2 separate regions of the Homo sapiens genome follow, and region 1 is linked to region 2. The links come from fine-mapping of genetic effects on plasma protein levels. Region 2 holds a variant in brackets. A gene starts in the other region. All regions are shown on their reverse strands.

Region 1 (15,913 bases), not on the chromosome of region 2:
ACAGGAAGAGACGGCATCTGCAGCCAAAGAAAGAGGCCTCAGGAGAACCAGCCCCACCCACACCTTGATCTTGGACTCCCAGTCCTCAGAACTGATAGACAGTACACATCTGTTGTTCAAGCCCCCTGTCTGTGGTTCTTTGTTACTGCAGCCCTGGCAAACAACTACAGGAGGAAATTATGGATCCTGTAGAAACTAACGAGGAAGAAGATGCCCCCACCCCTTTCCTCCAATACTCCCCATCATCATCATTCATTTTAAGACCATGCTTTCAGCTGGGTGCAGTGGCTCACACCTGTAATCCCAGCACTTTGGGAGGCTGAGGCAGGCGGATCACTTGAGGCCGGGAGTTTGAGACCAGCCTCGCCAATATGGCAAAACCCTGTCTCTACTAAAAATACAAAAATTAGCTGGGTGTGGTGGCACACGCCTGTAATCCCAGCTACTCAGGAGGCTGAGGATGAGACTCTGTTGAACCCGGGAGGTGGAGGTTTGTTGCAGTGAGCCGAGATTGCACCACTGCACTCCAGCCTGGGTGATAGGGCGAGATTCTGGGACGGACCTCTTATCCTTTCTCCGGCAGCCTCACACCTGCTGAGCCATGCCCCTGCTGTTGAGAGACATGAAGAAAGCCAGGCTTCTGATTTTTCTCTCCAGCTCCTTAAGGTTGTTGAACACATTTTCTGCTTTTTGTCTGACCAAAGGGGACTAACTCACATTACAAAAGGAGAGAGTTAAATCAGACAATGTTCAGGACATTTGTCTGCAAAGACTCTGAGACTCCGGCTGTTATCGAGGGCTGAAATATCTTGTTTTCAAACATTTCTAAGAAAAAGGCAGGCAGTTTCTTTTGGAGACTGTCAGTTAAGAATCTTTAGAATGGAAGTGACAGAAATCTAATTAAGTTGCTTTGGGGAAAAAGAGGTCGAAGGGGCAGATTTATTGGCTCACATAACTGCAAAGTCCAAAGTAGATTGACATCAGGCATTGCTGGATCCAGGGACTTGAATGCTGTCACCAGAATGCCAGCGATGGGGAAAATATGGGTGAAGCACAGTTCTTTCTGGAGGTGGTAGGAAGGATAAGGTGACCCTTTCAGAGTCCCTTGTTCCTAAGCAAGGGGAGGGAGGGAGGGAGGAAGTGGGGGGCGGGGGAGACAGAGAGAGAGAGAGAGAATATTACCTGGCAACACACAGTAATTTCTATGCTCAGAAATTGCTGGTGAGGCTGGACATGGAGGGTTGGAAGTTTTTGGTTTTGTTATTGTTGTTATTGTTGTTATTGTTGAAGACAAGGTCTCACTCTGTCGCCCAGGCTGGAGTGTAGTGGGGTGATCCTGGGCTCCTGGGCTCAGGTGATCCTCCCGTTTCAGCCTTCCAAGTAGCTAGGACTATAGGTGACACCACCATACCCGGCTATTTTTTATTTTATTTAATTAATTTCTTTCTTTCTTTTTTTTTTTTTTGTAGAGGCAGGGTCTCACGATGTTGCCCAGGCTGGCTTTCAACTTCTGGGTTCAAGCAATCCTCCCACCTGGGCCTTCCAAAGTGCTGGGATTACAGGTGTGCACCACCACACCAGACTGAGTGGTGGGAATTAGTAATTATTTTCTTTCAAGCTGCCAAGCACAGCCCTCCCTCTGTTAACCATGTCTAGAGATTTACTTCAAGAGCAGAGAAGGTCTACAGACCCATGCTGGTTTCCAAAGCACCCCCTAACACACACACACACACACACACACACACACACACACACACTTGTGTGCACACCTGCATGTCTGCCACAGCTGTGAAGGGCCTGATGGCCCTATGCAGGTGGTTTCTGGCTTTTGGAGGAAGTCTAAGGGTCACAGAAGACAGAGGCACTACTGGGGAAGTGGGAGCTAGCAATCTCACCTATAAAATGGGGTAAGCTGGTAAGCTGGCCAGGCGTGGTGGCTCACAGCAGTAATCACAGCACTTTGGGAGGCCAAGGCAGGAGGATCACTTGAGCTTAGGAATTCAAGACCAGCCCAGGCAACATGGCGAAACCCTGTCTCTACAAAAAATATGAAAAATTTCTAAAAGTTAGCCAGGTGTGGTGGTGCATGCCTGTAGTCTCAGCTACTCAGGGGGCTGAGGCAGGAGAATTGCTTTAGCCTGGGGGAGTCAAGGCTGCAGTGAGCCAAGGTAGCCCCACTGCACTCCAGCCTGGGTGACAGAGTGAGACTCTGTCTCAAAAAAAAATGTGTATAGTATATATATAGGGTGAGTTGACTTATTACAACTAGGGCTTTTGTGCCTGGCAGAAACCTTAGTCTAATCCTTTCACTCTACACAAAGGGAAACCATCCTAGAACAGAGAAGCAAACCGAGCAGAATCTTCGGAACAGGCCGGGCACGGTGACTCACATCTGTAATCCCAGCAATTTGGGGGGCAGAGGCAGGCGGATCACCTGAGGTCAGGAGTTCGAGACCAGCCTGACCAACATGGTGAAACCCCATCTCTACTAAAAATAAAAAATTAGTTGGGTGTGGTGGCACGTGCCTCTAGTCCCAGCTACTCAGGAGGCTGAGACAGGAGAATCACTTGAACCCAGGAGGCGGAGGTTGCAGTGAGCTGAGATCGCACCACTGCATTCCAGCCTGGGTGAAAGAGGAAGACTGCATCTCAAAAAAATTAAAAAAAAAAAAAAAGAATCCCTGGAACAGAGCCACACCGTGAGTCAGCCACGGGCAGAGACGAGCCTGCCTCCTGCCTCCTGGGTCAGTGCTCCTCTGTTTCCTCCTTTGCTTCCCCCAGGTGCCCAGTGCTCTCATACCATCCACTTTGGCTGCCCAGGACTAGACTGGAGATTGAGGCCAGAGGGAAGCTACAGAAAAATCTTGCAGCTGGAGTCCTACTCTCTGACTAGTCAAACCTTGTATTCTGCACAGCTTCTTCCTTCTGCAGAGAGCATAGGGGTGGTAGCTGATCCATTAACCAGCCCTTCTAGCCTCTGCTTGTGCATCTGCTCTGCCCAGAGTGCCCTCCCCATCTTCCATCTTCCTTCTTGTGGCTAACTCATTCTTATCCTTCAAAGCCTTAGCCCAGCCCCACCTTCTCCAACAAACTCCCTTCTCGACTGCGCACTCCTGCTGTGCTCACAGAGCATCCAGGACTCACTGCCACTGTATCTGTCACTCACTGTGGCAGCCTGGGGAGCCTGTGATTGTGCCCACCTTTCCCCCTGCACTGTAAGCTTCTCAATGGCAGGGACTTTCTTGTCCGTTATGTATCCCCACCTTCCAGCAGAAATATTAGATTTTAACCTGCACAGTCTCATTTTATGCTCACAACAACCCTATGAGGTAGCCATGAGAAAACAAGGAGAGAGAGGAAGCAACTTGCCCAACACACAAAGGTAGCAAGAAGTTGATGTGAAATTGAGCCCAGACTGTGATTTCAGTCTTGGGTCTGGGCTACTGTGACCCCAGGGTCTCGGTGAAAGTTTGTTGAATGACTTAAGGGTCTTATTTCTTTCTGTGTGGCCAGATTAAGCACTTAGAGTTGGATGGTGGTGGGGAACCAATACTTCTACCATAACAACATTTGCTGAGGGCTTACTATGGGAGAGACACTATGCTTGGCATTTGACATATACTCTATTAATTTCCCATTGCTGCTGAAACAAAGTCTCACAAGCTTGTTGGCTTAAAAGAACATGATTTTATTTTCTTACAGTTCCAGACATCAGAAGTCTGAAATCTGTTTCACTGGGCTAAAACTAAGGTATTGGCAGGCCCATATTCCTTCTGGAAGCTCTAGGGAAAAATCCATTTCTTTGCCCTTTCCAACTTCTAGAGGCTGATTACATTCCTTGGCTCATGGCCCCTTCCTCTATCTTCAAAGCCAGCAGTGTAGTCTCTTCTCTCCTCTCTGACCTGTTCCCATCCTTACATTTTGTCCCTCTGACCTTGATCCTCTGGCTTCCCTCTTATAAGGACCCTTGTGATGACATTGAGCCTTCCTGAATAATCCAGGAGAATCTCTCCACCTTGAGGTCCTTAACTTAACCACACCTGCAAAGTCCTTTTTACCATGTAAAGTAGTATATTCGCAGATTCTGGGGATTAGAATATGGACATCTTTTGGGGACTATTATTCAGCTTACCACAGACATCATCAAATTTAATCCTTGTACATTAATGCTCCAACAGAGGTGTTATGATTAGCTTCATTAAATAGACTTGGAAAGCACATAGCATATGACAGGCCCTCGATAAATGTTGATGGGGCTGATCTGGTGTGAGAGTTAGTTGACAACATATCCTCCTCCCTGGACAGCAGGCCTTGGAGGATGTGTCTAGTTCTGTGTCTTCCTCAAGTCTTCTTCCACAGTCCCCTCCACTGGGGACAGATAGAAACTCTGTCAGAGTGTATGACACTTAGACACTTAATTGTCTCACTTGGGGTCACTTTGTCTCCCCAGTGAGATCACAATCTCCTTCAGTGTAAAGACCAACTCTCATGTACTACTAATTATTTGGCCCTTTATACAGTGCCACGGGCTTTTGCAGATATTATTTTTTTCCTTTTAGTCCTTGCAAGGACTGTCCATTTTGCCGAAGAGCAAAGTGAGGCTCTGGCGAGATGCAGAGTCAGTTTTTGATGGTGCTGGTTGATGAATCCTGCCTTGCTCTGAACCCTTTATCTCATGGTACTCAGCATGAGGGGCTTTCTGCACCCTCAGCAGCCTCTCGCCCACTGACTCCCCTCTGCACTTGGCTGAATTTTCTTACCTCTTTAGCTTCCTCTTAGCCTTTTGATACTCTTACTGTGGCATGCTCATGTGCACGCACACACACACACACACACACACACACACACACAAAACTACCCCAGCCCCCCAGAACATTTCCAGCACTGGTGTCTTTACACAGCCCTTACCCACCCACCTCCATTTATATTTCATCTGCAAAATGCTCATCTGAGCCACTTCCCATTCTTTCTCCTGCACACACAGTCACCACTAGAATTGCACATCCCCCACAGCACAGCTCCCAGAGCCTTCATAGATGACACGGGATTCACCTAAGCTTGCTTTTTGTAGAAACACCTTGTGATCACCCTGGCAGTGATTATGAGCTTCAGGTCTGGAATCAGACTGCTGGCTAGACTAATCAGACTGGTTAGAATCCAGGATTTATCATGTGTCAATTGTGTGACTTTTGGAAAGTAGATTAATTCATGAACACCATTTCCTCCTCTGAAGTGAGGAATAATAACCGTGCTTTTCTCACCTCAGGGGCAGATGCTATTTTTTAGGCAAGATCTGCTTAGAGGTCCCAGTTTCTTATTGCTGCCCTTCTCTGCTGTAACTCTTCTCCCCTCATAGACAGCTCCACTCCTCCAGCCTGCTGCTTGTTGACACCAATTCTCTGGAAGGGGAGTGACATCAGTCATATATGCTTTAGGGGGGTATTTAAGCTGCTATGACTCTTCTCAGGGGCATTTCTCTCCAAAGTCTCACTTCTAATCACCAGGCCACCTGCTAATGATAATTAGATCATGGGTGGTCAGATGAAGGAGGCACTGGGAGAGGGGAAATCCCCATATCTCTGGTATCCCAGCAAATAGATAACCATCATTCCAGCCATCCTTTTGTTTTCTTTCTTTCTTTCTTTCTTTCTTTCCTTCTTTCTTTCTTTCTTTTTTCGCTCTCTGTCAACCAGGCTGGAGTGCAGTGGCGTGATCTCAGCTCACTGCAACCTCCACCTCCTGGGTTCAAGTGATTCTCCTTCCTCAGCCTCCCGAGTAGCTGGGACTACAGGCGCCTGCCACCATGCCCAGCTAATTTTTGGTAATTTTAGTAGAGACGGGGTTTCACCGTGGTCTCGATCTCCTGACCTCGTGATCCGACCGCCTCGGCCTCTCAAAGTGCTGGGATTACAGGCGTGAACCACCATGCCCAGCCTATCCTTTTGTTTTCCATCCTGTGTTGGCTTGGTGGGGGAGAGGAGGTGTTGACACGTGGAGGACACACATATAAGGCATTCTTGGGTGACTTCGTCATCACTGGACCCTATCTCTCAAAATTCCAGCGAAATCTGCTCTTCCCTTTAAGGAGTGAAAGAAGGGTCAGCATTCCAGAAGTTCCTGGTCATACCCAGGCTTTTAATGAATTGCCACTGGGGAATCAGCATCCCGTTGCTGTAAGGACTATAAGATGGCGGATTGTGAGAGCATAGGGAAAGGTCTCGGAGGTCTCTTGTCCTTGCTCCACGCAGGTCTTTCTGGCCTGAAAATCCCGTTGAAGAGAGCAGCTCTTGAGAGTTTGCTCCAAGTTCCCTCGGGGTGATCAGCACCACGGACAGCGGCCAGGGCGCCCCCGAGGACCCGCAGGCAGGCAGGGTGCACAGCGGCGAGCAGGTGCTGCGCTACGTGCGGGCCAGGGAACTCGCGCGGGGAGGGGAGAGGCGCCGCGGGTGGCGGGGTCTTGGCCGGGGCTGTTTTCGCTGTGAGTCACCCCGTGCTCCCCGCGCTCACGTCGGTCCTCGGAAAGCCGGGGTCCTCCCTGCCTTTTCCAGCAACGGTGGGGTGGGGAGGCAGGAAGAAAGCGCCAACCTAGGACACCTGGACATTTGCAGGAAAGGAAGAAGCGGGAGACGGGGACTTGTCTGTGTCTCCAGCGCGTTCCTGCCCCCCGGCCCGACCCGGCCCATTTCTATACAAGGTCGGCTCTGCCCGGTCTCCACCTCCCACGTCGCAGGCGCGGAGGGGCTCATTCCCGGGCCCTGATCTCAGAGGCCCGGAATGTGGCTGATAAATCAGAGATAACCCTGCATGGCAGGGCAGGCCCGACACTCAGCTCCAGGATAAAAGGCCACGGTGTCCCGAGGAGCCAGGAGGAGCACCCCGCAGGCTGAGGGCAGGTGGGAAGCAAACCCGGACGCATCGCAGCAGCAGCAGCAGCAGCAGAAGCAGCAGCAGCAGCCTCCGCAGTCCCTCCAGAGACATGGATCCCCAGACAGCACCTTCCCGGGCGCTCCTGCTCCTGCTCTTCTTGCATCTGGCTTTCCTGGGAGGTCGTTCCCACCCGCTGGGCAGCCCCGGTTCAGCCTCGGACTTGGAAACGTCCGGGTTACAGGTGAGAGCGGAGGGCAGCTCAGGGGGATTGGACAGCAGCAATGAAAGGGTCCTCACCTGCTGTCCCAAGAGGCCCTCATCTTTCCTTTGGAATTAGTGATAAAGGAATCAGAAAATGGAGAGACTGGGTGCCCTGACCCTGTACCCAAGGCAGTCGGTTCACTTGGGTGCCATGAAGGGCTGGTGAGCCCAGGGGTGGGTCCCTGAGGCTTGGACGCCCCCATTCATTGCAGGAGCAGCGCAACCATTTGCAGGGCAAACTGTCGGAGCTGCAGGTGGAGCAGACATCCCTGGAGCCCCTCCAGGAGAGCCCCCGTCCCACAGGTGTCTGGAAGTCCCGGGAGGTAGCCACCGAGGGCATCCGTGGGCACCGCAAAATGGTCCTCTACACCCTGCGGGCACCACGAAGCCCCAAGATGGTGCAAGGGTCTGGCTGCTTTGGGAGGAAGATGGACCGGATCAGCTCCTCCAGTGGCCTGGGCTGCAAAGGTAAGCACCCCCTGCCACCCCGGCCGCCTTCCCCCATTCCAGTGTGTGACACTGTTAGAGTCACTTTGGGGTTTGTTGTCTCTGGGAACCACACTCTTTGAGAAAAGGTCACCTGGACATCGCTTCCTCTTGTTAACAGCCTTCAGGGCCAAGGGGTGCCTTTGTGGAATTAGTAAATGTGGGCTTATTTCATTACCATGCCCACAATACCTTCTCCCCACCTCCTACTTCTTATCAAAGGGGCAGAATCTCCTTTGGGGGTCTGTTTATCATTTGGCAGCCCCCCAGTGGTGCAGAAAGAGAACCAAACATTTCCTCCTGGTTTCCTCTAAACTGTCTATAGTCTCAAAGGCAGAGAGCAGGATCACCAGAGCAATGATAATCCCCAATTTACAGATGAGGAAACTGAGGCTCAGAGAGTTGCATTAAGCCTCAAACGTCTGATGACTAACAGGGTGGTGGGTGGCACACGATGAGGTAAGCTCAGCCCCTGCCTCCATCTCCCACCCTAACCATCATCACCCTCTCTCTTTCCCTGACAGTGCTGAGGCGGCATTAAGAGGAAGTCCTGGCTGCAGACACCTGCTTCTGATTCCACAAGGGGCTTTTTCCTCAACCCTGTGGCCGCCTTTGAAGTGACTCATTTTTTTAATGTATTTATGTATTTATTTGATTGTTTTATATAAGATGGTTTCTTACCTTTGAGCACAAAATTTCCACGGTGAAATAAAGTCAACATTATAAGCTTTATCTTTTGAAACTGATTTGTCTTGGCGCATTAAAAATAATCCCTCATTTCAAAGAAACCAACCCAACTAAAACCACAAAGCCCTGTGATCTCAAGGCATCTTCATGGTGGGATGAGGATGTGGCCTCAGAGGTAGCAGGCTTTCTTTTCTTTCAGAGTTTTTAATGCTCTGAAATGTTATTGAATATCTCAAGCACTTGAGGCACTTGGGAGAAACTGCTTTTCAAAGCAGGGCAGGATACGTGTGCAACCTGAGGGCACGTATCCAGCCGTTTTCTCCACTCGTCCTTGCTCTGCCTGGAATTCCACCATTAAAGCACTCTCCCTGGGGATTATTGCTTTCAGGTCTCAGCTAAAATGTCAACGACTGGGGGCAGTGTGTGTGGGTGTGGCTCATCTACATTCCCATACCGGGGTGAGCCCTCCATCCTGCCCCAAATATCAGCTTTGAAACTCCAATTCCTGGGGTCATCCTGCAAAGGAGCCTTCAAAACTCCAACCCACAAAGTGAGAGGGGTCTGGCAATCAGCCCAGCTTTCCAGGGTGCCCCTCCCCTGGGGCTGCATCATCTCTTCTCTTTGCCTTAACCAGTGGGGAGGCTGTCTCTCCTATGGGTCCCCTTCCCACACACCCTGCAATCCAGGCCTCCGCAGTGCTGAGTTCCTCTCCTTTCAGATTCCTGGGAAGGGCCTCATGTCATTCGCTTTCTCACAATGCCATTTATAATTCCAGCTCAGCTGAGGGGTAAGGCACCATGAGGTCCACTATTATTATGTCCATTTTCCAAATGGGAAAACTGAGACCCGGGAAAACTGAGACCCTGGAAAACCAAGCGTCCTATCCAAGAGCACACAGCGACTAAGCGCTGGTGTGGGAACTGAGCGGAGATCCAGGTGACTCTTGAGCCTGTGCTCTCTGACTCTTGAGCCCCACACTCCTGCCCTTGAACTTCACTCTCAAGTCTTTTCTGATGTTCTCATCAGATGTTTCTTTGAATGAGAGTGACCTAGAGGGTGGAACTTTGTGTTATTTATCATTTTCACCCAGTGTGCATCTGAGGATTTATGGATATCTAATGACATCAATTAAGATTGTTTAGACTGGGTGCGGTGGCTCACACCTGTAATCCCAGCACTTTGGAAGGCCGAGGCCAGAGGATCACCTGAGGTCAGGAGTTCGAGACCAGCCTGGCCAACATGGTGAAATCCCCTTTCTACTAAAAATACAAAAATTAGCCGGGCATGGTGGTGTGTGCCTGTAATTCCAGCTATTCAGGAGGCTGAGGCAGGGGAATCGCTTGAATCTGAGAGGTGGAGGTTGCAGTGAGCTAAGATTGCACCACTGCATTCCAGCCTGGGTAACAAGAGTGAAACTCCATAATCTCAAAAAAAAAAAATTGTTCAAAAACGAGGTTTTAGGCCAGGGACAGTGGCTCACACTGTAATCCCAGCACTTTGAAAGGCCGAGGCAGAAGGACGGCTTGAGCCCAGGAGTTCAAGACCAACCTGGGCAACATAATGGGACCCCCATATCTTCAAGAAATGAAAATGAAAAAAATTATCTGGGTGTAGTGGTGCATGCCTGTGGTCCCAGCTACTCAGGAGGCTGAGGTGGGAGGATCGCTTAAGCCTGGAAGCGGGGAGGCTGCAGTGAGCTGTGATTGTGCCACTGTACTCCAGCTTGGGTGACAGAGGGAGACCCCATCTCAAAAAACAAACGAACAAAAAAAGAGAATAAAAGAAATAAAAAAGAGGTTTTAGGGGCAGCTTATTTTTCCACCAACTGTGAGTCATGTCTAATGCTTCCAAACCGGGGAGAGCAATGAGTAATTAGAATAGTTAATATTCATAAAGGCCTCATTCATGTACCAGGCACAGTCATATAGACCTCACAACAATGAAGGAGTTAAATTTCTTTTTTTTTTTTTTTTTGAGACAGGTCTCACTCTGTCATCCAGGTTGAAGTGCAGCGGTGCAATCTCGGCTCACTGCAACCTCTGACTCCCGGGTTCAAGCGATTCTCTCGCCTCAACCTCCTGAGTAGCTGGGAGTACAGACATGCACCACCACCCTCAGCTAATTTTTGTATTTTTTGTAGAGATGGGGTTTCATCATGTTGGCCAGGCTGGTCTCGAACTCCTGGCCTCAAGTGATCCACCCGCCTCGGCCTCCCAAAGTGCTGGGATTACAGGCTTGAGCCACTGCTCCTGGCCTGGAGTTAAAACTCTTACATCCCTCTTTTTACAGATGGGGAAACCAAGGCACAGAGATATATAACTTGTCAATGTCATGTAGTTAGCAAGTGGCAGAGCCAAGATTCGAGGACCCGTACCCCTAACCACTGTCCCACCCAGCTTTTTCCAAGCCAGTGAATTAGGCTTGTGGGTGGGATGGAGGTCCCCCTCCTGGTGGCATCACTCAGTTCAACATCTGGGCCACTGCCTGCTGGTGGCCTTTCCCCTCTGCTCAGGTGATGAGGACACACCCCTCCCAAAATACTCCCCAAACCCAGCCAGCACTTTCAAATTCCTGCAGATGAGTCTGGCTCATCCATAAATGGGGCTCAGATGGTGGAGGCTGTACACACCATACATCCTGTTACTTGGGTCCTTTCCCTAAGCAAGGAAAGAGGACCCCAAAGTGACCTGCGAAGGAGCCAAATGTGACAGTTGGAGCTGGGTAGCGGTAGCGGGCCGCCTGCTGTACCCAGTGAGTGACATCTCATCAAGCTCTCCACGTGGTTGGTGTTTGCAGGCAGCTTTGTGGTACACACACCGCATGTAGATGCCCTTAAAACCAGCCCTCCCTAACCATTCCCCACGTAGCTGTAGCCATGGCCTTAACCTCCCTGACTCCCCGTTACCAACCTTGTCTCCCAAAGAAGCTGCCAAATGATTTATCTCCATAGACACTTTTTTTTTCTTTCTTTCTTTCTTTTTTTTTTTTTTTGAGACAGAGTTCTCTGTTGCTCAGGCTGGAGTGCAGTGGCATGAATACAGCTCACTGCAGCCTCAACCTCTCAGGCTCAAGCAATCCTCCCACCTCAGTCTTCCAAGTAGCTGGGACCACAGGCTCATGCACCACGCCTGGCTAATTTTTTTTTACTTTTAATTTTTTGTAGAGATGGGGTTTCACCAGGTTGCCCAGGCTGGTTTCAAGCTCCTGGGCTCAAGCAATCCTCACACCTTGGCCTCCCAAAGTGCTGGGATTACAGGTGTGAGCCACTGTGCCCAGCCTTACGCTTGTTATCTTATTTTTTATTTATTAATTATTTTTTGAGACAGAGTCTTGCTCTGCTGCCCAGGCTGGAGTGCAGTGGCACAACCTTGGCTCCCTGCAACCTCTGCCTCCCTGGTTCAAGCAATTGTCCTGCTTCAGCCTCCTGAGTAGCTGGGACTAGAGGCGTGTACCACCACACTTGGCTAATCTTTTTGTATTTTTAGTGGAGACGGGGTTTCACTGTGTTGGCCAGGCTGGTCTCGAACTCCTGACCTCAAATGATCTGCCTGCCTCGGCTTCCCAAAGTGCTGGGATTACAGGCGTGAGCCACCACACCCGGACTCTTGTTATTTTAATCTTTCCAGAAAGACGTGTTGGTGAAAACAGACTGAGGAGATTTAGTCCATGGCTTCAGAGCTGCAAGAAGCTTCAATAGAGAGTGAACTGGTTTTTTTCAGGTCTTCAGTGTTGAAGTCACAGAAGTCAGGACAACGTTGGGCCTGAAAGCTTCATCTCATGTCCGTGATTTTGCACCTGGGATAGTCTCAAGGAACACTGAGCCCCTCTCCCTCCCTCTTATGGCTGATTTGACCCTTCGTTGTTGTGTTTTGTTTTGTTTTGTTTTGTTTTTGAGATGGAGTCTCACTGTTGCCCAGGCTGGAGAGCAGTGGTGCGATCTCGGCTCACTGCGACCTCTGCCTCCCAGGTTCAAGCAATTCTCCTGCCTCAGCCTCCCGAGTAGCTGAGACTACAGGTGTGCGCCACCACGCCCGGCTAATTTTTTTGTATTTTTAGTAGAGACGGGGTTTCAGTGTGTTAGCCAGAATGGTCTCCATCTCCTGACCTCGTGATCCGCCCTCCTCGGCCTCCCAAAGTGCTGGGATTACAGGCATGAGCCACCGTGCCCCACCTGCTTTGGCCTTTCTGAGAATGATTTGTGGCAAGGAAAAAAAATGCATTTCTCTTCCTGCAGAGCTGGGTCTAAACCATGACATGAACTTGGCCATTTGTCTTTGTTCATGTTGTAGATCTCAGCCTCTCTCTAGGATTTTTCATCCACTGCCTTAGCTTAAATAATCAGTCTTATTCCACCAAGTGATCCATTTTTCCCTTGGGGTCTGGAGCCTGCCCCATACAGCTGCCTTAAGCGTTTCTAGAACCAAACTCAGTATCTGCCCTTGGACACTGGCTCCCACTCTCCTGCCTCTAGCTGTCCCGTTTCGGGCACGGCAGAGGCCCGTAGCCCCTGATCTTCAGCACACATCAATCCTTTCATCCAGCAGCACTGCACTTTTCTGCCTAAGAACTTTCTCTGGCAGCCGCAGCCCACTCAGCTCCTTGGGGCCGGCAGGAAGTGCTGGGGAATTGACATTGACCTGAGCAGTGCTCAACCAACATCTGACAGGAGCTGGCTTTTTTTTTTTTTTTTTTTTTAAATAGAGACAGAGTCTTGCTCTGTCACCAAGGCTGGAGTGCAGTGGCATGATCATAGCTCACTATAACCTCAAACTCTTGGGCTCAAGCGATCCTCCCACGTCAGCCTCCCAAGTAGCTGGGATTACAGGAGTATGCTGCCATGTCTGGCTAATTAAAATAATTTTTTTTTTCTGTAGAGATGGAGAGTCTCACTATGTTTGCAAGGCTGATTTTGAACTCACGGCCTCAAGCAATCCTCCTACCTTAGCCTCCCAAAGTGCTGGGATTACAGGTGTGAGCCACTGCACCTGGCCAGGAGTTGGCATTTAAAGACCCAGCTCACGCCTGGTGCAGCAGCTTACACTTGTAATCCCAGCACTTTGGGAGGCTGAGGTGGGAGGATAAATTGAGTTCAGATGTTCGAGACCGGCCTGGGCAACAAAGAGAGACCTCGTCTCTACTAAAAATAAAAGAAAAAAAATTAGCCGGGTATGGTGGTGAACATCTGTAGTCCAGCTACTCGGGAGGCTGAAATGGGAGGATCACTGAGCCGGGAAGTCAAGGCTGAAATTACCACTTCACTCCAGCCTGGGTGACAGAGCAAGACTCTGTTTCAAAAATAAAATAAAATAAAATAAAATAAAACAAACACCCAGCTCCCTTGAGTCATAGGTGGCATGTGTCTCTGTTCTCCAAACAGAGAACCTGTTTGGAGTTCTCTGTGGGAGGAGGATTAAGCACCTACTGCCAGAGGTGGTCACTGACTTCTACTTTTTCTGTATCACTTCCCCACTCTCCACTGACATTTCCTGGGTTTGTCTCCAAGATCAGCCACTAATACTGGAATATCTGTCTCCGGTTCAAGAGAACTTAAACTAAGACACTCCCAAATAAGTCAACCTTCCTGCAGAGCCCTGCCCTTCATGATTCTCCTGCCTCAGCCTCCCGAGTAGCTGGGACTACAGGTGCACACCACCATGCCTGGCTAATTTTTGTATTTTTAGTAGAGACGGGGTTTCACCATGTTGGTCAGGCTGGTCTCGAGCTCCTGACCTCAAGTGATCCACCCACCTCAGCCTCCCAAAGTGCTGGGATTACAGGCATGAGCCACTGCACTCAGCCAATGTCACCTTACATTTGCTTTCCTTCCTTCTCTATTTGTGTGGGCAGTGCTTTCAGAAGGCCCCCAGAGATCCCCAACCTCCTGGTCTTCATACCCTCTGTAACCCCCTCCCTTAGAGTGTGAGTGAGACCCAGAGACTCACTTCTAAGGGACACAGAACAGTACAACATGAAGAATGGGATGTCACTTCTGAGATTAGGTAACAAAGAGACTGTGGCTTCTTCCGTAACTTCTCTTTCTCGCCTGACCTAATAGAAGACAGTTGCGTCTCCATGGAGAGACCCACGTGGCAAGAAACTGATGTTTCCACCAGCCACCAGCCAGCGAGAACCTGTGGCTTCTGCCAACAGCTGCAGGAGTGAGCCTGAAAGCCTATCCTCCCCCAGCCAAGCCTTGAGATGACTGCAGCCGCAGCCAACGCCTTCATTGCCCAGGGGCCCCAGGCCAAGCAGGGCCAGATCCCTGATCCACAGAGCACAGAGGTGATGAGATAATAGATGTGCATTGTGTGAAGTTGCTAAGGTTTGGGGTGACTTGGTTTTTGTTTTGTTTTTTGTTTGTTTATTTATTAAAAACAGGGTTCCTTATGTTGCTCAGTCTTGTCTGGAACTCCTGAGCTCAAGAGATCTTCCTGCCTCAGCCTCCCAAAGGGCTAGTATTACAGGCGTGAGCCACCATGCCTGGCTTTTGTTCTTTTTGAGACAGGTTCTCACTCTGTCACCCAGGCTGGAGTGCAGTGGCTTGGTCATGGCTCACGGCAGCCTCAACTTCTTGGGCTGTGGTGATTCTCCCACCTCAGTGTCCAGGGTAGCTGGGATGACAGGCACGCACCACTGCACCCAGCTAATTTTTTGTATTTTTAGTACAAATGGGTTTTTGCCATGTTGCCCAGGGTGGTCTTGAACTCCTGGGTTCAAATGATCCTCCCAAAGTGTTGGAATGACAGGCGTGAGTCACCACGCCCAGTCTGGGGTGACTTGTTACCCGGCAGTAGTTAACTAAAACAGCCTCTCACTCCGCCTCACTCTTGCTTCCTTTGAATAGGAACCCCCACAAAACTTTAGCGAGTGACCTTTTGCCTTGGGCTTTGTTTTCTAGGGAAACTGTCCCCAGTCTTCAGCCCTTAGTGACCTCCATATTAAACCAAAGAAACAAAACATCATTTTCAAAGTCAGCAACGATCATCCCTAAGTATGAACCAATTTTTCCCAACTGGGGCTTCTGCTTTAGACCATCTGGGTCCCGCAGAATCATGCCACGAATGTGTTGGGGATTTCGTGCCAGCTCTGCACGCGGGTGACACTGCACACTCTGGGGCTCCCTGCAGCAGCCCAAGGCATACCCCCAGAGAATCGTGAAGCCAAACTCTGGGCTGGAATCTGGCAACACCCGGATTCTGGATTCTCCCACCCGTTTGCAGTGCTCCACCCGTTGTATGACTAAGATGACTTCTTTCCAGTGATAAGGAAATAAAAGGCTTTTGATTTTTCAGCCGTGGAAGAGGTGGGGATGGAGGTGGGCCTGGCTTTCTGTGCCTGTTACTTTTCTTCTCTCTCACTCCTACAGGCTGCTTCTAACCACCCCATGAAATATTAGATCCCCACCTACAGACAAACCCCAAGGCTTGCCAAAGAGGGTCCCTTTTATCTTATCTTAGAATAATATCACCCTGGATACCTCTTGTGACCTCTAGTCACTTGCTGCCCTGATTTCCAACCTTATGGCTGCACAACGTCCTGTTCACCTGGTCAGTCATGAGGTCAGCACACCTGGGGACAGATCTGGCCAGCCAGGACAGAGCTGGTCACTCAA
Region 2 (15,913 bases):
CCTTCATCTTCTGCCATGATTGTGAGGCCTCTCCAGCCATGTGGAACTGTGAGTCCATTAAACCTCCTTTTCTTTATAAATTACCCAGTCTCAGGTATGTCAATGTGAAAATGGACTAATACAATAGGTACCAACTAAATCCTTCTAAAATTGAACTGAATGAAAGAAACTTAAAACATTCTGGGGCCCATCTAGAATATTAAATCACTCAGAAACCTACTCCTGTTTTACCCCAACTTTCTAATTGCCATTACTTCCTATATTCCAAGGATCTACTAAATAATAAATGTAGCAAGTGGTTAACCAGGCAAACCTTCGCTTCCATGCTTCCAGTGACAAGGTAGTCTTCTATCCTCAAAGAAGGCTGGGCCATTTTGAACAGCTCTAGCTATTTTACTGATGCTGAGCTCAAAAGTGCTTTCAGTGAGTAGAATGTAGACCCAGAGCACCCTCTGGAATTATTTCCTTCTGACCTACAAGGAAGAAAGCTAATTCCTTTTCTATAGGAGTTCTCCAGATATCCGAATATAGCTCTCATTAAAAAACCCAGAATTTTCTTCTCCTATTAAACATTCCCAATTCCTTCAGCTACTGCCTGACTGTTATCCTGGGGGTTCACCTCCAGACATACTTGAGTTTTAAGGAGGATATGACATTGAACACAATACCCAAGATGTGACTGGCCAGTACAAAGTACAGCAGGACTCCTGTCAATTGTTGAACATTGCAGAATGGTTCTGGAATGCAACTTCCACTGAAGACTCAGTTAACTAAAACACCTATGAAGTTTTCATTTTAGCAGCAAATAAAGTTCATTTTCCCATCCTGTACTTAATAAAGTTGATTTTTTAAACCAAAATCTATATTGTTATTAAATGTTCACCAACAGTTTTAGGGTATCATTCCAGCCTACACAGAGCTTTGCAACCTGATCTTGTTAATTCATGTTTCCCACTGAACCATAGTAAAAGCCATTTAAATAAAAATAACTCAATGTTTTCAGGCATGTAGTATGTCCCCTCTCAGCCTTAAGCACTTGAGTCTGCCTCCAGAAGATTGTTATACTTATTATTATTTTTTTTGGTTTTATGTGCCAGACCTAGGAGTTTAGTATGACAGGCATTGGACAGAGTTTACTAAGAAACCTAGAGATCTATTATGTCATATGTTGCTATTTTCATATCCAGAAAAACAAATAATAGTTTGTAAAAGTGAAATTAGATGTTTTTCTTTCAAACAGAATCAACAAAATTGTAATTGGTAAGGGAAAGCAAGTTTTATTTTTTCTTTTCTTTTTTTCTTATATTTTCTCTTTTGCTTTGTTTTAGGAGAATTTTGTTGTTTTCAATTTAAAGTAAATATAAGTTAAGAACTTGCATTCCCCTCTATGAGTTTCTTTGGTCTTTTCTCTGTGGCTGTCTTATATAGCTTATTTTCTTTTCTTTAGATAAATAGGCAAATCCAAGTGAAAATATTAATGTCCCATTAATGTTAGTGAGCATCCGAATGTCTCACACATTCCTCTTGAATCCGTCTGCTCTGAGTCTTTTTATTTCAAATTACCCAGTTTGTGCTCAGTTGTGCCCTTCCATCAAGAGAAGGATTCTTCAAGAGTTCTCCTAGAGCAACTGTGCTAACTAATTCTTAGGTAATTTCTATGAGAATATGACAATACCTGCTTTCACCTCTTAATCCTTGTGGGCTGAATCTGAATGAATGATTCAGCACAGCTCATCAACTTGACTTTCTCAAAGGAGATTTTGACATTATAACCAACATATGTGGCAGAAAGGTTAACTTATCACTTAAATATGAAACAGGTTTCTTTATAATCTCCATATTCATGAAAAGAGAGCAATAAGGCATTATTAAGTGTAGAGATGTCTTCAAAGAGTACTGTCAACTCATCTATTCCTATCTGAGAAGACACATATTAGAAATCTTCAGAAGTATCAAAATCCTTTATGCAACTGGAGTTTTGCTTTTATGCCCAACTCACGTTCTCCCTGAGCAGAGGTTTACATTCACTAATACTAGCAAATGCCCAGGCATTTAACTTAGCCATCTCCAGATGAACAACCTGTGAATAAATTATTCCACAAAAGCCCAATGAACTTTTAGCTTGGAGTACAAAACTATAACATTTCAGAATGTTCTAGATGCTTTGTGTTCACCACAGGTTCCCAAGAATCTCCACAGGGTTCTAAGGTCACATATATCCAAGGATATTAGCAGTGATACATGTTATCTAAAATGAAGTTAAAAGGGAAGTAACATGGCTTCAACCCTAAAAGTTTCACCAACTGCTACTACAACAGTAGTATTGAAAGTCAATAAAAATTGCCAGTACTTATCACTTAATCTAATCAGTCACAAATTTTCATTCAGGGAAATACATATATATATAAAATGAGGATATATCAACTGTGTTAATATTGCATATATCAACAATAATGTTATATTGTTAACATTACAGTAACATACATACTGTATTGCCACATGCATAATATATATTGCATTGTTACCTTACAGTAATAGTATATATTTTTAATGTTATTGTATTATAATAAAGTATTACATTGTTAATATTACATATATTGTATAATATCATAATGCAATATTTTGTGATAGAAATTCACTCCCATAATATGGACAGAATCATGTCATTGTCAGTGCAATTGCGTTGTTCTCCATTTGTTGAAAATGCAAATATCATATAAATAAATGACATGTCTGAAAAATCAAAGTGCATTGGACTGAGTTTCCTGAGAGCCAATATAATTATTTTGGACGGATTTGTGCATCTTTTAGAGAGTGGAAGCCCCACGAGGGTATGTTCTATACCTACCTTAGTAACTACATTATCCCAACTTAACTCCATTTCTGACACATCTGCTTTTTTCCTGGCTTTACACCATTCAAAAGGTAATATGGTTCAGCTGGGCCATTAGGGGATGGGGTAGATGAGAGTCTCTAGGGGACATTTGTCCCCTCACCCTTGACAGTGGTTCCTCTCCATTTTTCAAAGAAAGATATTAATTTATGTCTCCCATCAACAGCATTAAGTCTAGGAAATTTGTGTCTAACAGATCATTGTCAGGCAGTCCCAACAGTTACTCTTTGTCACGTTACCCTATTTTATTTTCTTCGTATACTTATGCCAATCTGAAATTGCATTGCACATTCACTGAGTTATTGTGTTTATTGCCTGTTGCCAACCTCTAGAATGTACGTTCTGTGAAAGCAGAGATCTTACCTTCCTAGTGCACCACTGACTTCTGTACATAGAACAGTGCCAGGTAGATTCAAAGAAAGATCAAAATATGTACTTGTTAATATAAATAAAACTATACAAAATAAATTTATTAATTAGAAGTCTCCATCATTAACAAGACACATCAATACTTTTTACAAAAAAAGAAAACTACATTAAATGGATTTATTGCTTTTAAAGTAAGCTATATTCTGATTTTCAGGGACATTAAAAGTAGGAATTCTACAATCAAGAAATGTATTTCAGATTTATCTTCTTAAAATTAGTCAAAAATGTATATGATTGCCAGAGTTTCTTACCAGCATGGAATAGCAAATGTAATCTGATTGTGTGATAAATCCCATGACTCCTAAATAAATAAGGCATTTTTGTTGTTATGGGTACGTTTCTGAGTGATGATTTTCCAATTTCCCCAAGGCTTTTAAGAACATTGAAATTGGCTACTGACCTCAAAGATTTTTAGAATAGGAAACACAAATGTAGTTATACTGGCCCATTTTACAGGTGAGAAAAAACTAAGAGCCAGAAGCTCAGTGAGTCTAGATAACATCGAGGTTATCTAAAAGGCTAGAGGTGTTTCTCATTGCAATGGCTCCTTCATTTTTCTCAACGACTCCTTCCATTTTCTTTCATGAAAAACACTTTGTACAGTGCATTCCACATAAGAGAAGCTCAATAAATGCCAGTTTCCTTTATTCCTAGATTTATATTTGCTGGAAATAAACGAAAATACAATATTTTCAAATCCTGTAACAACAGACCTTAAGTTAACCCTATGATTCCTTAAGATCTCCTTTATGGCATCAATTCTTATATTCTCGCACTAACGAAAACAAAGAAGTTCCAAAGGGCAATTTTGCTGCTTTAAAGCTCAAAGTAAGTTTTTGGACTAAAAGAATATTGTTTTTAAAAATTAAATTAAAGCAGAGCGAGAGAGAGAATATGAATGAGACACAACGTGAATGAGAGAGATGTCAACCATTCACCATTCAGTAGCTCAGCAGGTTTGTCAAACTCTAGATTTTGTTTTAGCCCACATTGCAGAGTTCAACTCTGATCTAACTACTAGCATGATTTTTGGGCGTCTGTTTGCAGATGCAGTCGAATTATCAATCCGAACAGACACACAATCCGGGTCCAATGTCACTTCTCCTCATTATGTTAATAGTTAATACATGCAAATGAAAACACTCTAGCAATTTGATTTCTTTGAAGATAGTTTGCATATTGTCTTAGCCATAATGACTGTACACTTCTCTCAGCCTCCATTTATGCAAGGGTAGTGTAGTTCATTTTTATCAGCTCCAGTTCATTTTGGCTGCTATTGGAATGTATGTGCATGTTTCTTTTTTACCTTTTGCCTAATTACCATTCAGGTACCATAAGCAGATTTTTCATGCTATTGGTGTTTTTCTTAATTAAGAAACAAATGAATTCTCCCTAGCAAAAAAAGATGGAACAACAGAATAAGATGCCAGGGGCTGATGTTCTGTTTCTTAATTGAAGCAGTTCTATTGTTCGGTGTCGGTAGTGAGGGGGCTGAAATGTCATAAGTGTAGAATGTTAATAGTACAAAAATAACATAAAACTACTTTTAAAAATAAAGAATACAAAACAATGCTGTAAGAGCTTTGAAAACATAGATTTTTATCCACATATTAATTCTGACAGTAACAAAGTAGCTTCATTTACAAATCCCTCACACTTAGAAAGCCTGAGGTTCTAACCCCAGTCCTGAGAGATATGCCTGCCCCACTCTGCTGGTCTAGTTAACAGTGTCCTACTTATTTACTCTTCATCAATTAAGGAAGCACCCAGGGGAACAATTTGTTTCTTTAATTTGTGAATAAACCATTGCTACTTTAATTTGCATTCTTCTTTTTTTCTACCCACAGTAAAATCTCAATGTCCTACCAGTATATTCAATATGCCTTACTACAACCTTAAGGTAAGACACATGCAAATTCATACAGACAACTCTTTCATTTCCCTTGGGATGATAAAACTTCAAGGAATTGAGGCTTTAAGAGAAAGCTGAGTTTTTACTCACATCTGTACTGATGGCACAAATCTGCTCTAGTGAATGGCACAAAAGGTTACATATTTTTCTCTTTACTAAAAGCTGTGGACAGATATTTGTTCACTAATGGCTTTATTCCTTTCTCAGATTATGAAATTCTTGCCTTATTTAACTGAGACTTTTAAAAATGAAAACCCATTACTATATTTTAAATAAGCTAGTAAAGACTTAACAAAAGTTATCTTATAGAGTAACATTTATTTTTCCTGACCAGAAAAGAGCATTATAAAACAAGATCTCTAGGTATCAATTTCTAAATGACTAAGTTTCTACTGATATTGTTCATACTTGCTGTCTTTCAGGTGCCTGACCTATGTATGAGATGCATCAAAGAGTCAAATAGAATAAAAAGAATTTAATATATATGTGAACAAAGCATATCATTATGTAGTTTTTCCCTATTTGGAAGGAAGAGGTCATAAGTAACTCATTTTATCATAAATATCTCTATGCATAGTGAAAAATAAAGGTGGACCTTTATTTATTAAAACCTAATGTTTTGTAATAACATCATGGGATATCATAAAAAACCTTTAGGTTGCTATACAAGCATAACTCATGAGTTTTTAAAAGTAAATAAATCATTTTAATTTGAGATTATTTTTAAAACTTTTTAACAAAGTACAGAAAATATTTCATGAGTCATCCTAATGAATGTAGAGAGTTTCTAATGGAAGAGATCTGTTAGAAACCAATTTGTAGCACACAAAATTACATATATACTTATAACTGAAGAACATTTACATGACCATTATCATTTTGAGAATCTACATTTATGTGAAGTTGTAATATAACTTTGGAAGAGCTTAACTCACTCACAAAATTTGCAGTCTTATAAAACTGTCAGGAAAATCCTCATCTGATTATTTTTCATTTCACTAAATTAAAAAAAAAACATGAACTATGACCAAAAAGAATTATGAACTATGACCAAAAAGAATTTTCATCTCTGTTCTCTCTATGCTCTAATACATTAGAAGACGATAGTTAAGGTCACTAATAAGGTCACACACATAATAATAAAATGTGACATGATATTCAGTTATTGACTTATTATTCATAATGTAAACTATGAAATAAGACCTAGGGACAATAGTTTTCTTTCTCTCACTTTCTTGAGTTTCTGTAATATTGGCAAGGGTGGGAAAGAGGAGAAAGGCAAAGAATTTTGAAACTTTGAGATTTACAACCAAATTCTATGTATATGAAAGTGTGAACTAGGATAAAGAAAATGTTTCTTTAAGAGGGTTTCTAGAGACTTGTGAAATTTTATTTCTTCAAATTCCTCAAGTGAAGAGACTAAAAATATCTATTATCAATTTTAACCCAGTAGCAAAATGTTTAGAAAACACATATTCCTTACCCCTGCAGCAGTGTGAAACTATTGTTGTCTTGCCCCACCCCCAGTCTCTGACTTGCTAACATGGTGTCCCTGCCAAATTCTTGGCATTGGAAGTGAGGGGGAAGAGGCCATACCATAACGTGTTGATAATGATGAGATAGAAATAGCAAACCAGCTGGATTGTCCTAATAAAGTATGTCTGGGATTTAGAGACACAACAACTATGTGTTCAGGTCATCCAAATGCATTTTCACCAACTGGTTTCTTCGATGATCTTTTGAGATACTCCAGTCAGGATCTTTCTAAAGGAATTTTATGTATTAACTCCAGAACCGTCTGGAAAAATACAACAACTAAACAACAAAAACTAACTACTCACTTTTTCTGGTAATGGTTAGTATAACCAAAGCACCCTGTGTTATTTAATACCAAAAAATGAGACGAAGTGATCTGTAACAGATTTCAGAGTTTGTAAAAACATTTACTGGTTTATAGATATCTATATCTATACATCTATATCTACATCTATAATGTGTGTGTCATATATATAGTGTGTATGTCTGCATGTATATGTCTGTGTGTGTGTGTGTGTGTGTGTGTGTGTGTGTGTGTGTGTGGAGTATATTACATTTTAATATCAATCTATCTTATAAAGCGTTTCCCAGTGAAGCTCAAAATATTTTCCTCATTGGGAATAAAGTATTTATTCCTTTTAAAATTACTTTAGGGTGATTTGAGCAAAATTATTCAATTAGAGTATTCAACAAGATCTTTTTATAAAACTTACGTCAACTACAAACAATATTTACCAAAAAATACTTCATTTAAATATTTGTCAATTAAAACATGCAAACCAAAGACCTTTAAAATTATATTTTAAATACCTGAGGATATTTACCACTACCAGAGAACAATTTCTTTTCATGGATTTGACCTCAAAAATACTAATAATCTAGAAAAGTTTATCAGTGCATACCTGGTGCTGTTCTAAACGATTTACATGTGTAAACTCGTTGAATCCTCTCAACAGCCCTTATATAAGCTCTCCTTAATAACCTCGTCTTTACAAATGGGGAAACTGAGTCACGGATTAAATAACATGCTAAAAGGACACGACACAAGGAAGTGGCAGAGCAGGAACGTGAACCCCAATGAAAGACTCCAGAGTTCTGAAACATTATAACAATACCCCTTCTCTAAAGAATGATTGTATAATTCAATCCCCTTCTAAAACGTAAATATATGACTTTGTGCCGTACATCCATTCAAATGCCATCGGATAGGCAGCCACTGCATTTTGCAATGTAAAGTTAACATGTAAGTTACCTACATCCTCATTTTCAAGTAGATAGCTTGCAACGCTATTTCTCAGGACAGTCAGACCTCTGGGCTAATACATTTCCACAGGGTGGTTAGGGAGGGGCAGCACCATTTGATCAGAATACGCTGCACGTAGCAGGCCAACCAATTCTGAAGATGGATCCTAGTAACATCAATAATCCTCATTACTCTTTATCCCAGAAATTTTGTGTAGCCTTCTCAGCAGAGGTAGTTCTAACTTGATCATCTTCAGTAATTTATTCTACTAGGCCTTGCTCTGGATCTATTTTTGGTGCTGACCACTAACTTTATCATC[A/T]TGAAAACCACTTGTAGCTTTTCAACAGTTGATGGCTGGAACATCAGCTGGCCACATGGGAGCCAGGGACTGGATGCACTTTGGGTTCATTTTCCTCTGATTCTTTCCTTTACTTCTTTGGGTCTTTAGGAATAGAATTCTTGATGGCAAGACATACCACAAGAGATTAACTTTTTTCCCAAAAAATTAGTTCTCCATTTGCATAAAGTCATTGTATAATGCCACTGATCAGATGAATTTACTTACAGTAGCATACACCTTGTAGCACCTCTGTCCAAACTCAGAATGTAAATTACAAAATACAATAAAATCTTCAGCACTACCTAGGTTGTTCAGAATCTATGAGAATGAATTAAATAAAACTGACCTTATGGTCCTATAATATTCCACTGAGGCTGAAAATGCTAAGAGACTCCACGGTTAAAAACAACCTTTCTCAAGTTGCATTAATGTTCCTAGGCTCTAGGTTCCTTCAAATGAGAGAAACAAATATTTCATTTGTTTTCGGATTATAATTTCCCTCAACTCCGTGTGTTATTTGTTTCCTAACCTTATGTCCACTTTCAAAATTATCTGACAAAAATTCAACATATTTAATTTTCTTTCCACTCTGTCATAATTATCAGGGGGTATTTATGCTGGCATTTATGAATTAAAACCTTTCTATTTTATTCAGGGGCATCCTTTCAAACCCCACTGACACTCTAAGCTTTGGTCTCTCCATGTACTCCTTCATTTCCTTCTGCTGCTGTTGCTGCTGCTGCTGCTACTGCCCACGAGAACACTTGAGATAGCTTGGAAGACTTTCAAGGATAAAAAAATCCTTAATAAGGTACGAAAAAGAGCAACACATTGGGCCCAGGGCCAATTTAAAACTATGTCTGCATATAATAATATGTATAAAAATAAGCATCTTAAAATCACTCAGAAGGCAAAACATTTGATAGGGGTGAGAGATGAACTCTTTCGGGCAGGGCAGAAAAAAATTTCTGAACTCAGGAAAACAACATCGTGGAGATAAACTTTTTGTATAACAGGGCCTAAATGAATACATTGAATTTTAAAGAATAGAACTTTTATCTAAAACCAAACTATCATACACTATTAATCTGAGGTTAATAATACACCCATGACCTATGCTGCTGAGAGTAGAGAAATACTATACTTTAAAAGGTAATATATTTAAAACCTTTTTCTCTGCATTATTTCTTTCTCTAAAGTAAAAGTGAGCATAATCTTCACTTGAGTGCTCACTTTTGGTATATTCTCATATAAACTGAATGATAACTATAGAAACATTTATCATTATAGCTATTCTCTCCCATATTGTCTGAATTAGAGAGATATTAAAATATTCCATAAAATATTTTTCTGTGCCCTACTTTCTTCCCAACTCCCAAAAGCACTTCTATCCTCTCAACTACACAACCTAAGGGAAGACAAATAATTGAAAACATAATTATAATGGCAATATTACCTGATTTTCTGGCCCCAAACCCCTCCCCCCACCACACACACACACACACACACACACACACACACACACACACAGTTTATTACTAGCAGTAATGGCAGTGGTATGAAAATACTGACATTCACATTCCACAATGTATACATTTTATTTTTTTAATTATTGGTATTAATTTGTAACTTATTAAAATTATATTTGGTTAAAAACTGAAAACAATATTAAGAGGCATACAGTGAAAAAAGAGTCTATGTGCTACCATAAACTCTCAGACCTCATTCCCAAAGAAACCATCAACAATTTCTTGCATATTTTTTCAAAAATTTTTATGAAAAACATATCTAATATCTATTCATTTTTCTTTTCAAAAACATTACAAATAGGTACATGCCATACTGATTTTTTTTCATTTTACGAGTCTTTGAGATATTTCCATATCAGCATGAACACATCTGTCTTACCCTTTACAACACCTGAGAGGGTTATACCATAATTTTATTTAACCCATCCCCTATTAATGGACATTTAGGTGACTTCGAATTTTTTGCTATCAGAAACCATGCTGTAATGAGCACACATATGAGGGTTTCTATGGGATATGTAGAATTGCTGGGTCAAACAGTATATGTGCAATTTTAATTGCTATAAAATGCCAGACTGTCTTTCAAAGAGGTTGCAACAATTGGCAATCCCAGTAACAATTACTTTGCCTTCTTGCTAGTGAACATTTTTGCCTCTCGATAGGCAGCTATAAAACTAAGCTAATGCATATGAATGAATGGAAAGCTACTACCAAAGACGATCTCATGAGTTAAGCACAAACAGATTCAATTAAAAAGATACTGCTCTGTTCATTCATTTTTGCATGTGTTGTCTAGCCTCAATAAAATATTCATACTAAACTACTGAAAGCACTGAGTGATGGTTTTAGCCATCAGCTACGATGTTGTTATTAAATCCGTATCTAAAAGTTAGAGGGTAGCACAGAAGGTCTAAGGTTGAATTCAAGATAATAATTGTTAAACTTCACAAAATGAAAGTTAACTGAAGCCCATTGTTAGCTCAGAGGTTGTTGTTGTTGTTGTTTTGCTTTGTTTTGTTTTTTGTCCTCTTCCATTTCCAAATTGGAATTTGGTAGGATCAAAGCAATTATCAAGCAAATACAAAATACACTGATCAGGCTCTATTTTTCAAAATCTGCAATGACCATCAATTACCTAAAGGATGAGTTCAAATTCTTCAACATGGCACACAAAGCCCTTTAAAAGTTTGGCCCCAAATCAGCTCTCAAGATGCATGCTCTGTCACTCACATAGTTTCATCTTTGGCCACAACTATTCACTGGACCTTGAAAATACCATGCTCCTTAACCTCTTGGCCAAGCTATTGTTTCTGCCAGGATACAATTCCCTCTTGTCATGACTACATCTCCCACTCCTCCTTCAATACCCAGCTGAAATAGGACCTCATCCTAGAGGCTTAACCTGACGCGCTTATGAACCTCAATGCCCACAGCAATTTATACCTCTATCTATCAAGATTAAATCATAGTGTACTTACTATGTAATGCACTAATTGAAGGGAGAGACCATGGTCTGTATTTGCCCCATCCCCATGGCTTAACATGGTACACAAAATTAGTACTTACTATATGTTTGTTTATTGAATATTAAATGAAGTTTTCATGTAAGTTAAATTTAACACATATAGGTAACAATCTTTTCTTGGGGCAAAATTGTTTAAAAATATATCACAGGAAATTATGTGGGTTTTTAAAAAAATTTTTCATTCATTCATTAATCTACTACTCTTTGAGCATCTGCTATGTGCCTGGTATTTTTCTAGCAACTGTAGTTATAGAAGTGAACAAGACTAGGTCACACACCCAGAGAGCTTACATTCTAGTACAAAGTCAACTAATAAACAAGTAAATAATCTAACAAATACGTAAGTTATGGGCTGGAGAGCAAACTGAGGCAACTTTAAATGGGAAGGCTAAAAGAGACCTTTCTGAACAATTGACATGTGAAGTAAGAAGTGAATGAGAAGCCAGCCATACGGAAATCTAGGAAAAGAACAGGAAGACAGGCAGCTTGGCATGATTACGGAACAGAACAAAGACCCATAAAGATAAAATGTAGTGACTGCAAGTGGTTTATGGGTAGGAGTTGGATAGGGAAGTGCTACATAACAATAGTATGCTTAGTGATCAGGTCAGACATAAGGAACAGATCTGGTAGTCCATGATCAAAAGTTTAGGTATTAATTTGCAAAGGGATGTCCACTGGAAGAGAGGTGAAGTGATATGACTTGACTTTATGTTTTTCAAAAAAATCATTTTGGCAAATAAAAATGAAACTGTTCCTATTTTATATTGTTACCTTTTAAAATGTAATAAGTGATCATATAGATGTCTATATAGCAATTCCTTAGAGTCCTCTTAAAGTTCTGATAGGGCTGTAAAGCCCATTGAGAAGCTCATGAAAACCATTTCCTAGAAAAATTCATGAATACATAAAATTTTCCATTAAATGTGTGGATATTCACAAACTCTTCAAAGCCTATAGACCCTAACCTAAAAATCCTTCATTCAAAATGTAATCATGTTTCTTTCTTAGGAGAGTAGGAACAATATGCTGTTAACATCTGTTTCACCTCCTGTAATACATAAGAGATTATTTCTCTACATAAAGTACATTGGTACTAACCACAGTATAGAAACAACAAATCCCCTAACACGTACCTTAGTAACATCCCATACCGGAACCTCCTTGTTCTTATTTCTCCAAAATGAAAACTTCCAAACCAAGAGTCAAAGAACATCAAAGTGAATGTCAGACTCATCAGTCCAGCCACTGCATCCCAAACTCATACTCTTCCTTAAATGAGATTTCTGAATCTGGAGGATTAATCATAGAATTGCAGTCTAGCTGGCCAGCTCCCTGATTCTTTTTTTCCATTTGTAAGAATTGTTGATCATAATTATTTATTATATAACTGGGTGTATATATATGTGTGTGTGTGTGTGTGTGTATAATATATATATATAAAATATAATATATACCCAGTTCAAAACCAGATGGAATAACAAAAGAAACAACAAACAAAAAAAATAATGGGAGAAAAGGGTTGAACATGAAGTATTAGATACTCTATAATATTAAGTGTGTGTGTGTGAACACCAAAAAACAGGTTATTAACCTTTAGAGAGTTGTTCACAGATACACACAAAAAAACTGAAATACTATCAAAGCAATTGGCATTTGACAATTGTGACACTGCCTTAAAATATTTTAACTGTAAAACTGAAAAATGTATCACAGACTTACACAGCGATTTTACAAGGAAAATTCAATTGTTTTCTCTTTTCTCTCATGTAACAAAATTATTGACCATTATTAGCTACCATCAATAAATAATATTACCAGACTCCCATCAGCAATGTAACCATCAAAACAAGATCAGTAAAGGTCAGCACCATTTGCCTGAACCATCTTTTCTGCAAAAGTTTTTCAAACCATAACTTTATTGATTCCTCACTATTCCTGAAAAATATATATATATATATGTATATATATATATATATATGTGTATATATATATATATGTATATATATATATGTATATATATATGTATATATATATATATGTATATATATATATAGAGAGAGAGAGAGAGAAATTGTTTTGTTCCATATAAATCTATATAGAAGAAACTAGGTCATTTTCTTATGCACTTTTCTTGGACCTATTACTAATTACTGCTGAAATGGTGATCGGTTCACCTTCCCTGATGACTTATCATGAGTACCACTTCAGGTTCTGGCACAAGTGTTTTCAGGCAATATTCCACTTATACTATCAGCAATACAGCACCTTGCAGAATTCACCTTCCTGATATTAAGCCTACAGCATTTGCTGAGACCCAACTGTCCTTTGGAGATCTGACCCTTAAAACTCAGAGAAAAATGATACATCATAGAGGATTTCTAGAGAGTATCAAACTGTCCTAAATCTAAATTCAAATGCAGGCTGTCCAAATTCCAATTCTGTCACAGTGGTACTAATTTTTATGGCTAACACTGGAAACCATTTTATTCTAAAACTAGCTATTCTACTTTATGCCTGCCAGCCTGCCTGCTTGCCTTCCTCCTTTCTTTCCAAGAACATTTATCCTGTTAATTATGTTCAAACTCAGAAGTGTTCTACAACATTTTTCTATCATAGCAAAAAAACAAGCAAATACAGATTTTTTTAAAGGTGATTTGAATATGTGTCAAGAATTTGGGGATTTCCATTATTAAAATGCAAAGAAACATTCTAATAATCTCATCACCAACCAACAAGATTCAAGTTCAGCAAATTAATTACAGCACAATCATTCACTAACTATGGATCTGTACAAAGTTCTCCCATTGTGCCAACCAAGGTTTCCCCAAACTCTGACATGTCTGTGTTGTGCACTAGAATACTTTTTAACCTAAGCTTCTCAGAACCTATAATTCCCAAGCAGCTGGACTGATAACTCTAGATTAATTTACGAAGTAATTTTTCATCCCAGAAAACCTATATTTCTTCAAAAAGTTTAAATTTAATATTAAATTTGGCCAGGTTAAGTGCTATGACATTTTGTAGCTCTTTACCCCATAAGATTACAATAAAATATGCAAAAAGTCATTATATATTGCAAAGTATAATATGAAATATGATTTAGTTATGAAATGAGCATATGCCCTCATCCTTTATCATATCAACAAAGTAAAAACATTAAGTTAAATTAACATGGAAGTAGTCACACATTTCTGTTTGTAGACTGAATCTTCATGCCTTTAAATGACTATCAAATGTTAGGACCTGGACCTAAAAGAGAAAGAATGAAATATTAATAATGTCCCACCTTGTGGGAGCTCGACATTACTTGACACTACACAGAAACTGACCTTTTTGTCCTTCAGGCTTGCCTACCAGGCCCCATCTTCTATCGCAAAAGCCAAATCATCTGATCCCAAACTAACTGTCAACTGCCTGTGATGGTGGGGAAGCCAGACATCAATCAATCAGGTTTTATCAGACGCTCTCTTCGTTTCTCTGTTGTGCTCATCTTATCATCTGACCCAGTTGTAGCCCTGACTTCAGAAGCTTAAGCAACTTGATGACAAAATATGTGCCTGTTTGTCCAAGATGCACATTGTTAAGAAGTGGGGTGATATTTTTAGCAGCTACCTAATATATTTGCAAATGAACACTTGAATATTTCAGATTCACTCAAGTCCCAGGTTGGTCAGTCTCCCCTGTACACTGAGTCTTCATTTGGAGGTGGGAGGCCCAATATTTCCAAAAAACGCAAGAGTACTTATGTACAAGTCAAACAGCATTGGAAAATCTGGTTATTTTTATGTCAATGTAAGCAGAAAGGCTACCAAAATGAGAATTTGAGAATGTCACTTCAAGAAGAGAAAGAAGAACTGATTGGTAAGTGTGCACAATACAAATTCAGACAGTTTTATCCTAAATAAATAAAAATAACTTAGAAAATTAAAAGCCATTTAATCTATTTATATTGACAACAGTCTTGGAAAAAACATGTTTAAACCTTCAATGCTGTTGCCAAATCTAGGTTAGCTGGCTTCCTACTTTAATGGCATAGTCCAGAATATACTGCTATACATAAACAGTTGAGGTAAGAAGACAATTACAACACAGATTACAAATTTGAAATTTTCAAATTCAAAGCAGATATTCGTTCTATAATTTCTACACAAAAGCAAGAAGAGTAAAATATACATATATTTTGTGGATATAAGCATTCTATGTTGGCATTAGTAACTGTCTTCTTGCCTCACTTTGTTGTTTTTCTTCAAGGAGAAATTAAACTTTTAGATCTTTCTTAAAATCAAAACAACAAGCTTCATGATGAATATAAGCATTCCATTAATAGGTAATGTTGTCAATATACATCCATCCCCCAATAATACATTCACTGAGCTATATTTTGAAAAGCATTTAAAAACAGCATAAAATTTCTTCACAGAATTTATCCAAATAAATGCATACTTTAATCATGTAAGTATGGGCTATATAACATCACAAAGTATTACACTGACATATTGGACA

Alleles and levels. Positions count from the first base shown, and alleles are read on the strand shown. Strength reflects both the effect of a copy and how common the allele is.
With allele T in place of A in region 2, the plasma level of the protein whose gene starts at base 6,865 in region 1 is higher (weak association).

The links. PIP is the posterior inclusion probability: the model's chance that the variant is causal. Protein levels are from antibody-based Olink assays in UK Biobank. Linkage for the fine-mapping came from a reference panel and not from the study's own genotypes, which makes the PIPs less certain.
Region 1: it holds the start of NPPB, and the variant in region 2 is fine-mapped to the plasma level of the NPPB protein (UK Biobank, PIP above 0.99).

Annotation. Positions count from the first base shown.
Region 1 is chr1:11,849,897-11,865,809 of GRCh38, reverse strand. It overlaps NPPB (natriuretic peptide B), which reads left to right and starts at 6,865. Exons shown (of 3, transcript NM_002521.3): 1 at 6,865-7,108; 2 at 7,341-7,596; 3 at 8,139-8,346. The coding sequence starts at 6,977. The coding sequence ends at 8,155. RefSeq lists a silencer at 6,300-6,466.
Region 2 is chr8:105,328,089-105,344,001 of GRCh38, reverse strand. The region is part of intron 1 of ZFPM2 (zinc finger protein, FOG family member 2); the gene reads right to left. Among named protein-coding and RNA genes, the nearest start is that of ZFPM2, 18 kb to the right of the region's middle. The variant A/T (reference allele first, on the strand shown) is at 8,333.